Linked DNA regions of Homo sapiens. The protein of the gene in region 2 interacts with the protein of the main gene of each other region in a pairwise test. Each region holds a gene or a part of one and is shown on either strand. Other genes may lie near its edges.

Evidence for each region. The genes of interacting proteins can lie anywhere in the genome.
Region 1: the proteins of EZR (region 2) and KIRREL3 interact in binary tests that used the Homo sapiens proteins (3 or more experiments, as listed by UniProt).

The regions. Positions count from the first base shown.
Region 1 is NC_000011.10:126,990,327-126,995,221, forward strand, and holds part of KIRREL3 (kin of IRRE-like protein 3 isoform 1 precursor), read right to left. Parts: exon of another isoform or gene 4,754-4,895; intron 2,209-4,753; exon of another isoform or gene 2,105-2,208; intron 1-2,104. UniProt on the Homo sapiens protein: Synaptic adhesion molecule required for the formation of target-specific synapses. Required for formation of target-specific synapses at hippocampal mossy fiber synapses.
Region 2 is NC_000006.12:158,780,935-158,785,829, forward strand, and holds part of EZR (ezrin), read right to left. Parts: intron 4,650-4,895; coding exon 4,375-4,649; intron 3,794-4,374; coding exon 3,710-3,793; intron 2,733-3,709; coding exon 2,586-2,732; intron 1-2,585. UniProt on the Homo sapiens protein: Probably involved in connections of major cytoskeletal structures to the plasma membrane. In epithelial cells, required for the formation of microvilli and membrane ruffles on the apical pole. Along with PLEKHG6, required for normal macropinocytosis.

The DNA of each region.
Region 1 (4,895 bases), on a different chromosome or scaffold from region 2:
CCCTCACACCCTGCAGAATCAGGAGAGAGGAACCCGCCTCCTGCGAGAGCCGCCGCCATCTGTAACGTTGCCCTCACCACCCAGAGGCGAGGAGGAGAGCCCCCCATCCCTCCCGTCCCTTCCCAGCTCCCGGCAGCCACTAGGCTTTCCCCTTCCCCGTCCTAAGGGACCTCCCGGGCTCTGCTCTCTCTGGGCAGGTTCAGGGCTTTGCAAGCGCTGCTGCTGCCACCATCAGGCTGACTGAGGCACTGCAGCCTTCACCTGGCGTCAGGGCCCAAAATAGTGCCCCAGCTCTTGGTGCGGCTTCAGAAGAACAGCTCCTCTCTGCCTCCGCAGTTGCCCCTCACTCAGGTGCAGCTTCCTATGTAAGAAAAAGGCTTCAGAGGGCATCTCCCTGAAGAAACAGAACTCCTTGTGAATGTGGGGTGGACCCCAGCGTCCTCTAGCAAGACGCAGAAAAAGTGCAGGTCCTAGGATTTAGGGAACGCAACCACTGAGGGATTAAGTGGTGGTTTTGCTTTCTTTGCCACAAGGTCAGTGAGGCAGGGAAGGGTGGGAATCACTCCTCCTGCCACTCCCGGATGAACGTGCTAAGCTTCCTGTGCAATGAACCAACCGGGCCCCAGTGTTACTCTGAAGCTGTCATTGCTCCCAGCATTGCCAAGGGTGACAGGTGGACTGTCACACTGCACCAGAGCCGAGTCACCTGTGACATTTGCAGGTGACTGACAGAAATGGGCACTGACATGCATTAAAGAACAGAAGGACGCGATGGTTTCCTGTTGAAGCTGAGCAGTGGGTGGCTTGGCAGAGGCTGTTTCTCTTGGCGTTGTCTCTGGTGACCCAAAGGGCATTCAAAGCCTTCCAGAAAGGAACAACTTCCTGCAGGGCACGTCCACACTTCACTTAGTCAGGTTCTTCTTCTGCCTCCTGCCAGGGGCCCTCTCAGCATCTCTCCATGTGCTGATATTACAAGCACTGCTGGCTTCTCCTCTCATTACCCCTCATTCCATTCCAATATTTCCACACTTATTCACAGCCTTCTATGTGCCCAATAGTGTGCTAGACACCAGGGGTGATAAAAGACTTGGATTTTAATCAACCAATTAAGAGAAGCAAAGTCCCTGCCTTTGCTTCCTTCCTTTTTATTATTATTATTATTATTATTTGTCAGAACAGCCACAAAAGGAGCTACTCAAGCAGTATGTCCTTAATTACTCTTCAGCCCCAAAGCCTGGCCTGTTATTTCCTCTGGAAACTTTGTACCCCGAGGTAAAACTGAATGCCAGAAAGATAAAGAAACTGACTCAGAAAGAGTCTGGAATAAAAAAGAAATTGAACTACAATGCTGCCTCCTTGTTCGAAGGTCAGACCTGGGATTCGGATGCATGATTTTCATAGGAAACTCCCTAAAATCCTTTTCCAGTCCTAGACACTGGGGATTGCCACAAATTATAAGACTATGACCTGTCTTATGACACCACAGCTTAGGATACTCTCCTGCATTTTTTAGTGTTGATGTGGAACAGCTGGATGTACCAGCATCTTGAGGAACATCAAGGCACATGAATAAGTGAACCAGACTGAAAATGACTTTAGTCAAGCAAAGTAACCTCTCTGGGGGTATGACAGCAATAATGCCCACTTCTCATTACTTCTGCTGATGAAATGAGGTAGTGCTTGTGAAAGCCACTCTGCAACTTATGAAGCTTTACACAAATGCTAGTTATCATCACCATCATCATCATAAGAACATAATTACTGCCACGACTAACAACACCCTCAACAACCAAAAGAATTTGCCAGGCACCTACAAGAAAATTTGCTGGCAAAGAGCAAATAGAATGCATCACCTACTCCCTAGGAATGTGTCATCCAAAATAAATAGATTGTTGCTAAGAGATAATATTCAGAGAATCTTACAGTTGGAGAGGTTTTGGACGTCATCTAGTCTACTCTCTAACCCATTTCTCAGGAATTGACTCCTACATTCCTGATGGCCTGAATTCCACCGTGAGTCAGAACACTCTCAGCAATGAGAGACTGTTCAGTGGGCCAGCCTTAGACTTGAGACTTACATATCCGCAGTCATGGAAATAACACTGTCTATTTCTTGCTGAACAATCGGGGTTTTGCTTCATCATTGAGCTTGTCCTGCCAGCCTCCACCAGTTCCTGAAGAGAACAGGCCAAAGTGTGGAACATACAGGTAGATCTGATGATATTCTCTACTCTTAAATGGAAGGGTACTCAGTGCCAGAGCCTTGTAAAACATTTCCAACATCTTCTGAGTAGAATTGTTTCACTTGTAACCTTGGTTTCCCTAAAGCCAGTATAACTTAGCTTCCTCTTGAGAACAAGAAAGACATCATCAGCAAAATGTCCCTAGGTTTTTGTGCTCACCTGCTCCAGTGCTGTTTCCTCTTCTGGTTAGCACCCATCTTCAATGTTAGGCTGCCTGCGCCTCTAACTAGCCAAGGGGATCCACAAACTGGCAAATCTCATTCCTCAATGCACTCTTTCTGCTCAAGTCCAGCGTGCAGCCAGCAGTCCTGCCTCTGTGTGTTTCCATGATCTTTTTTCTTCTCTTCCACATTCTTTAGCTAACACATCATTCTGGCATTCATCTACCCACCATCCTTCTGTGCCTCCTCTCTGGAATGTGGACTAACCATTAAGGTCAGTTCCCCCCATACTTATTCTCTTGCTCACTTCATCCATCAGCTAGAAAGAACGATTAAAAAGTATATTTCCATTCAATTTTACATTTTTAGCCCCATGTGAAACACAAGAAATACCAAGAAGTAAAAATAACATGTTGATCCCTAAACCCGTGATGTAGAGAGGACCACAAACCCATAGGCTACTAGCAATGTTTCTCAGGTGTTTACTTAATTATCTCAATCCATCCTCAAAAGATGTATAATGGCACCCATGGCCATTCACGAGTTGACTCTTCCCTTCCCAACCTTCCTCTCCCACTTCCCTAACACAGCAGCACTCTAGCCATCATACTGCCCATGGCTTCTGAACATATCGCATTCTGTTCTGCCTTTTGTATTTGCATACACTGTAAGGTATGTAAGAGACTGGAAATCGCTTTTCATGCTTCGTTTAGAGAACTCTTGAGCATCCTATAATATCAAGCATGATGTCATCTCCTCTGTGCAACCTTTTCTGATGCCTTTGCTGATCCACCTGTTTTCAGAACACTCTGACAGCTCTGAACCCATCATATTGTAACCTTAATCGAAGTGTCTGCTCCCCAACCAGACTAAGAGCTCTGGGGCAGAAACATGGTCTTCATTATCTTTGCATCAAAAGCCCCAGCACAGTGCCTACTGCATAGGAGGCCCACAGTGAGTGCTGGCTGAGTGGTCAAGGGCTGAGCCTTAGTGTCATAAAATGGTATTTGATCACAAAGGAAGGAGCAGCATATTTCACCCACTGAGACACTAGACTATGTGGAGCCCCTGGGGGAAAATGTGGAATAGTGACAGCGATGTTTGTTTGTTATTGCTGCAACTCTTGGCCTCAGATTTCAGATTCCAGTTGTCCAGGCATAAGTTAAAAAGAATCTGCATAAGTTAAAAAGAAACTTGCAACAACAATCCACTGAATACAGGCCAAGTGAGCAGACCATCTAGATAATTCAGCATGATGCGCACACATCCTTTCTTATACTGACATACATAGGCCATCCATTGCAGTTTTAGTTTCAATTATCAAAAAAAAAAAATCAGCCTCAGATAAATCTACTTTGCTTTGCCTATGAAGACAGGCAAAGAGTAGGGTGAGAGCATAGCTCCCATTTGAGAAAAGTGGCTGATTCTGGAGATATCACACTGATTTAACATTAAGTGGTGTGTGCGTGTGTGTGTGTGTATGTGTTCAGTAGGGGGTCAGGAGGGCGTGGGAAGGCTTCCAGATGCCAGGAAAAACCTGTCCAGGGGATGCAGGCAGGTGTCTGTGTTTGGCTGCCCCCTTTGCAGTTATTTCCAAGGAGAAGAAGGATGACTTCCTCTTTCCACCCTTCATGCCCCAACAGAACAGCTCCACACAGAGCAGATTCACCTATGCTGGCCATTATTTCCATGGCTTTAACTTGTTACCAAGTATGCCAAGGAATAGCTGACATTTATTTAATGTTCATAGTGGTGTTGACTGTGTACGCACTGAAACATTGTATGCTTATGGAAGACATTTGTTTCCAAGCAGCTTATGCTAAATTGCAGTGATATAAAGGAAACACTTATCCAATATTGACATTTACCAACTTCTAGAAGTATACAGCCAGAATACTCATTTTTACCACTGGGAGAGGAGAAAAAGAATTAAAAAGCATAATGGTCCTAGCTCCTTCAGTGAGTTAGAAGCTATGAGTGAATGAAAGTTAACGTGCAGTAGGGGGAGGTTCAATGGGGGAGAAGATCCCCCACCCTCTTGTGACCCTTGGCTCTATGGCACAGTGTGCTTTCTGAGAGGACTGAAGCCCTTCCGTGCTTCATAATAAAGCTTTGGCAGATGGCAGGACATAGCATCCCTTCCCCAACCATGAGAGAAGTATTCTGATGATCTATAAGGTATCTATGTTCTTACTTGACCTGCACTTCTAACTGGGTAAATTCTGACTTTCTCTTGGGAAAAGAAAATGACATGCAATGACGTATGGAACAGTACTGTGTCTCGGTGCAGTCGATTCTCACATCATTCCTCTAACTGGAAATAAAAATCCCACTCTACTTGGAATACAGGATGAAGCGATTACAACCTGGGCGCAGTATACTGGCTGGCTTTGCTGCTCACTCCCTTACGAATAGCTGTGATGGGATATGAAATCCAAGGGAACTGTTAGCCCCCCAGAGCAGCTGCTCCCACCGACCCTGCTCCAAGAGT
Region 2 (4,895 bases):
ATGTGTACAATGAAAAGGGAACCCCAAGAGACAGATTTCCCAGCCAGACCCTATTTAATACTAAAACAGGTGTTTTAATAGAGACTTTACTTGCAGAGTATAAATCTCTTAGAGCTCAATTTCCATATTCAATAGATCAGCTTTCTCACCTGAACAATGTTTCAGGCATATCTAATTCTCCTAGTTCTACCGAGAGAGGTAACAGCGCAACAGCTGGCGAGTTCTCAGCACTCCTCAGACTTCAGGACAGTCTCCTGCTTATGCTGCTACCAAGTTGTCAATATTTGTTCAAAAGGGAAAGAATTTGGGCCTATTAAATGACTGAATATCTACATAAATGCTTTTTTCATGAAGAGAGGGGTGTGCCTTCAGGAATGGGGAGAAGAGAGGCAGAAAGTGAGCCTGCCCAACACCCCAGCATGCTCTGTGGGGAAAGAACCATCTGAGAGAGTTGCCACGTTCATCGCTCAATGGTGGGGGAGGGGGAGCAGAGCGCAAAAACAGCACTAAATAGGGCACACAGCTCACGTTTTTACTTGGAAGAAATGGACACTTACGTGGGCTGGGGCAGTTACAAGCTGACATCAGCAAGTTCCTGCCCATGGCTGTTTTCCTGCAGGTTGAAAAACCTGTTTGGACAGCCCTGGCCTGGCCACGTTACAAAATCTGGTCATTGAAGAGATTTCCAAGGCAGAGGCAGTTTCCCACATACGTTCCCACGAGGACTTTGTGCACTGCTCCTTGGCATGGCTGTCTTAATAGCCACGGCTTCAGCTCTAGGGTCTCCCGGAAAGATGGTGTCCTGGTTCCAAGTACCCACTTTCCCCACTTCTTTAAAATTTTTTTTGAGACACGGTCTCGCTCTGTCACCCAGGCTAGAGTGCAGTGGCGCAATCTTGGCTTACTACAACCTCTGCCTCCCAGGCTCAAGTGATCCTCCCACCTCAGCCACCTGACTGAGACCACAGGCGTGCACCACCATAGCCAGCTAATTTTTTAAATTTTGGTAGAGACGGGGTTTCGCCATGTTCCCCAGGCTGGGCAAGACTCCTGAGCTCAAGGGATTCGCCTGCCTCGGCCTCCCAGAGTGCTGGGATTCCAGGTGTGAGCCGCTGTGCCTGGCTTTTCCGTGCTTCTTTACCAATGCTGCATCCAGCACACTTGGAGTAGGAGCGAACCGAGAGTCCTCAATATCTCATTTCCAGGTTCTCTGAGGAGCTCCTGTGACAGCGCCTGCCTCCCTCCCTGTGCAGTATCACCACGTGGGCCCCGGAGGTGAGAGGAGGTTGGGCACAGCTGGCACAGGTCCCTGACTTGCCCAAGTGAAATAGATCTGTGCCCTGGGGTCTGGCAGGAATCCGCGTGGTTGCAAATGGAGATGGACTCATGCAGGTCATTTGTGGAAAGCAGCACCACTCCCTTTGAGAACTCCAGAGAGGGTTTTGGGGGAACCTGAGATGTGGGGATGCTGAGAACAAAAATATCTGAGAACAGATGAGATGGGTGAGCCTCAAGTGGGAAATGGGGAGAGCTGTCATTTCAAGGAACAGCATGAGGCTGGGAAGGAAACCGGTACATCCAGGAACTCTGGGCCACTCTGCTCTTTACGTGGAAAGCAGGAACCCAGGCCAAAAGGCAGGGCTTGGCAAAAAGACCCCAGGAGCATTCTTGCCCTGGCACCTTCTCTGCCAGGCCCCTGAACCTGGTGGCCATCAGATGATTTGTTTCGGGGAGCCCTGCAGAGCAATCAGGCTGACTGTGGACAATCAGGGCAGAGACGGTAGTCAGGAGGCAGTCAGGAGCCTCTCCCTTCTCTTTCCAGAGGTAGTTTCCTTCTGCCTCTTAAATTCAGGTAGCTTCTGATCAGATCAATCCAGAATCTAGGATTATGCTGATGTCGCAGACTCACCATGGGAAACTTGCCCTCATGAACTAGGATGACTTTCCCTGTTTATCCTCAGCAGAAAGAAGGCAAATGCCCTGTATGTGAAAGCGGAACTGCCTGTCCCTGTGGAGAGGCCTGGCTCTGCTGCTCTACCCAGCTTGCTTACAGGCCCTCACTCAACAAACAACGTAACTAATGCGAGGCAATTAAGATATCTCCTGCAGACTCCCAGCATTTAGCTCAAGTGTCTACACGTACAGGCTATTGTTTACAGCTTTTCAAGTCTCTCATCACACCATCAATATTCTTGGTTGGATTAGCACAAACCTCGAGCCAGGAGTCGAGCACTGGCTGGGCTGCCTGCGAAGTAGCTATGGATGGATGTGCTGGTACCTGCAGGCAGCTGGGGTGGAATCTCAGAGGCAGCGGGGAGGAGAGGCAGCCTCTGCTCTATTCTGCCTTCCTCTACCAGGACTGAGCCCACTATCGGCCCCGCCCACCATGAGAGAGGATAACCCACACCTCTGGACCACCCTTTGAGAGGGCCACAGCAGTCCAAAAGCCCTTTAAAAAGTTTCCTACTTTGGGATAGTAAGTTGCTAAATAAATACTTCAAAAATAACCCACAAATTTGCCATTTTGCCATTGTTTCCAGGCCCACCACCCTACCTACTGAAGATAACTGTGAACTTCAACTCACTTATCATCTTTCTCATAAATATTCAGTCCAAGGGCATCAACTCCAAGCCAAAGGTCTGTTCCTTTCTTGTTTTTTATCTCGAAATAGTTGATTCCATACATTTCCAGGTCCTGAGCAATCTTCAGGTATTCCAACATAGCATTATCTCTAATTGGGGAGAGTGAAACAGGCAGAGTCACTGGTAGCACTCAATATCTAGAACAGTAAAACCTTTCCAGTATTTTTAAATTAAGGCGCCTTGTGTAGGATGGGCTCAATGCTGTGTGCTGCGTGCAGGCAGGCAGGGGCCGGGCAGCCGACCGGTGAGGAGGGGACCCATACAGCCCAGAAGCTATGCCTGGGGTGGGGTCCGTGCTGCCCTGGAGCCTCACCACCAAACCCCACACTTTGAAGAAGAACTGATTCACACTGGTTTCTCTAACAGGTTTTTAAGTTTTATCACTCAGCACAATCCTCCTTTTTCTCTTGCCCACACATGTCTTCCCACAACCCTCCTCATAGGCTTTGAGTTGTTTTCCTTCCATAAAGGATGTTTGGGCCAGACAGGAAACCCTGAAGCACAAAATCTGAGGCTCAAACCTCAAACAAACTTCAGAGGCTGAAATAATGCAGACTCGCAAGACTAGGCCAGAGACAAGGCTCTAGGACGAGAACACCCAGAATCAGGTGGCTCGGCCATGTCTTACATTAACAGCCCCACGTCCAGGTTCTCTGACATCAGCATTTCTCACTTGGGATCCTTTTTCATTTATATACACTTTGTAAGACAAGTACCTTCATATAATGAGCAAACCAGCATCTCTTTGACAGAATAATGCTGATTGCAGGTGAACAATGCCCCTCTGACTAAGATGAAGTTTAGACACAACACTTTCTACAAAGGGAGGGTGTAAGCTTTTAGAACCTGAAGGCTTGAGCTAAACTGCTTCTTTCCCCAGGCAAGACACCTGGCTTTGTTTAAAAAAAACCTCTTCCCTAAGAAAACCCCACTTTTAACTCGGTTCCCTCAAGGTCTTCACAAGGCCTGACACAGAGCCCTTTAAAGCACTAACTAGAGTCACAGGAAAAGACATGCTGGAGCGCACGGAGATGGCAAGATCCCAACAGCAGGGCACAGCACTCACTTGAGCATCCCACGGTGTTCCGCATGCCACACCTGGATCCGGTCCTCCCACTGGTCCCTGGTAAGTTTGTGCTGGTCCATCACTCTGGAATGCAAAAGGAAACAGCACTGTCATCCTTAAGGAATGTGACAGGCAAGGAAGGAGGCCCACTTACCACCCACATTCAAACCCTTACTTTCCATTCAAATCAATCAATCCCAAAGAGCTTTGGTTTCTATTTCCTGATGTGCAGCATTTCTATTTATGACAGTTAATCTGGAAGACTTAGCATTTTGAACAAGAACTCAGTTCTGCTGGAAAAACTAAGAGGTATTTTAAGTGGCCTCTTCTTCCAAATGGGGTAATTTTTGTGACCATTACTAAATAAAAACAGATTTCACAGGGGCAACCTATCATACCCCAGGAGGAGCTGAGCAGTCAGGTCGAGAAGTTTGCTATGCCATGTCCCACAGGACACGGCCACGCTTTAGTTTCCATGAGGAATGGCAGCTCGCCTTCCCTGGCTATGTTTCAGGTCGCTGGTCAGTGACTTAATGACTAGCATGAAGGAGCACTTGACACTGGCGAAGTCCTTGTGTTTTTAAACTGTGCTTCTAAGGCAATCACTTCTCCCTGCCGAGGACGGCATGACTGCTCCTGCCCAGGCCGGGTCATCCTGTGCTCACCTTTGAGGGATCAGCCGCTCAGAGCTGAGGTACCCAGACTTGTGCACTTCTTTGTTGTAGTCCCCAAACTTGGCCTGCACAGCGTAGGACCCCAAGAGCACGGCAGTCTCAGGGGGGCAGTAGATCTCATCGCTAAGGATTCCTTCCTTCACTTGGAGGAAGAAAAGTTTCTGGGTGATGTCCTGGATGAGCTCCTCAGCCACATCTTCAGGGTAGAACTTGGCCCGGAACTTGAACTGGAGGGGATTCTCCTTCCTGACCTCCTGGGCAGACACCTGCACGAAACAAGCCACACTCTCCACACAAATCCGGAAGACGAAGGCCCACTGTCCCCAACACAGGCTTCTAACCAAGACTCAATGGGGCCCTCAAGCCAGTTTTCAGGAGATATTTATTCTTAAAGTCATCTTTTTAGCACTCCAGACAAAAAAAGGTTAGTCAAAAGTGCTACCACAGGCCAGACATGGTGGCTCATGCCTATAATCCCAGTGCTTTGGGAGGCCAAGGCAGGAGGATCACTT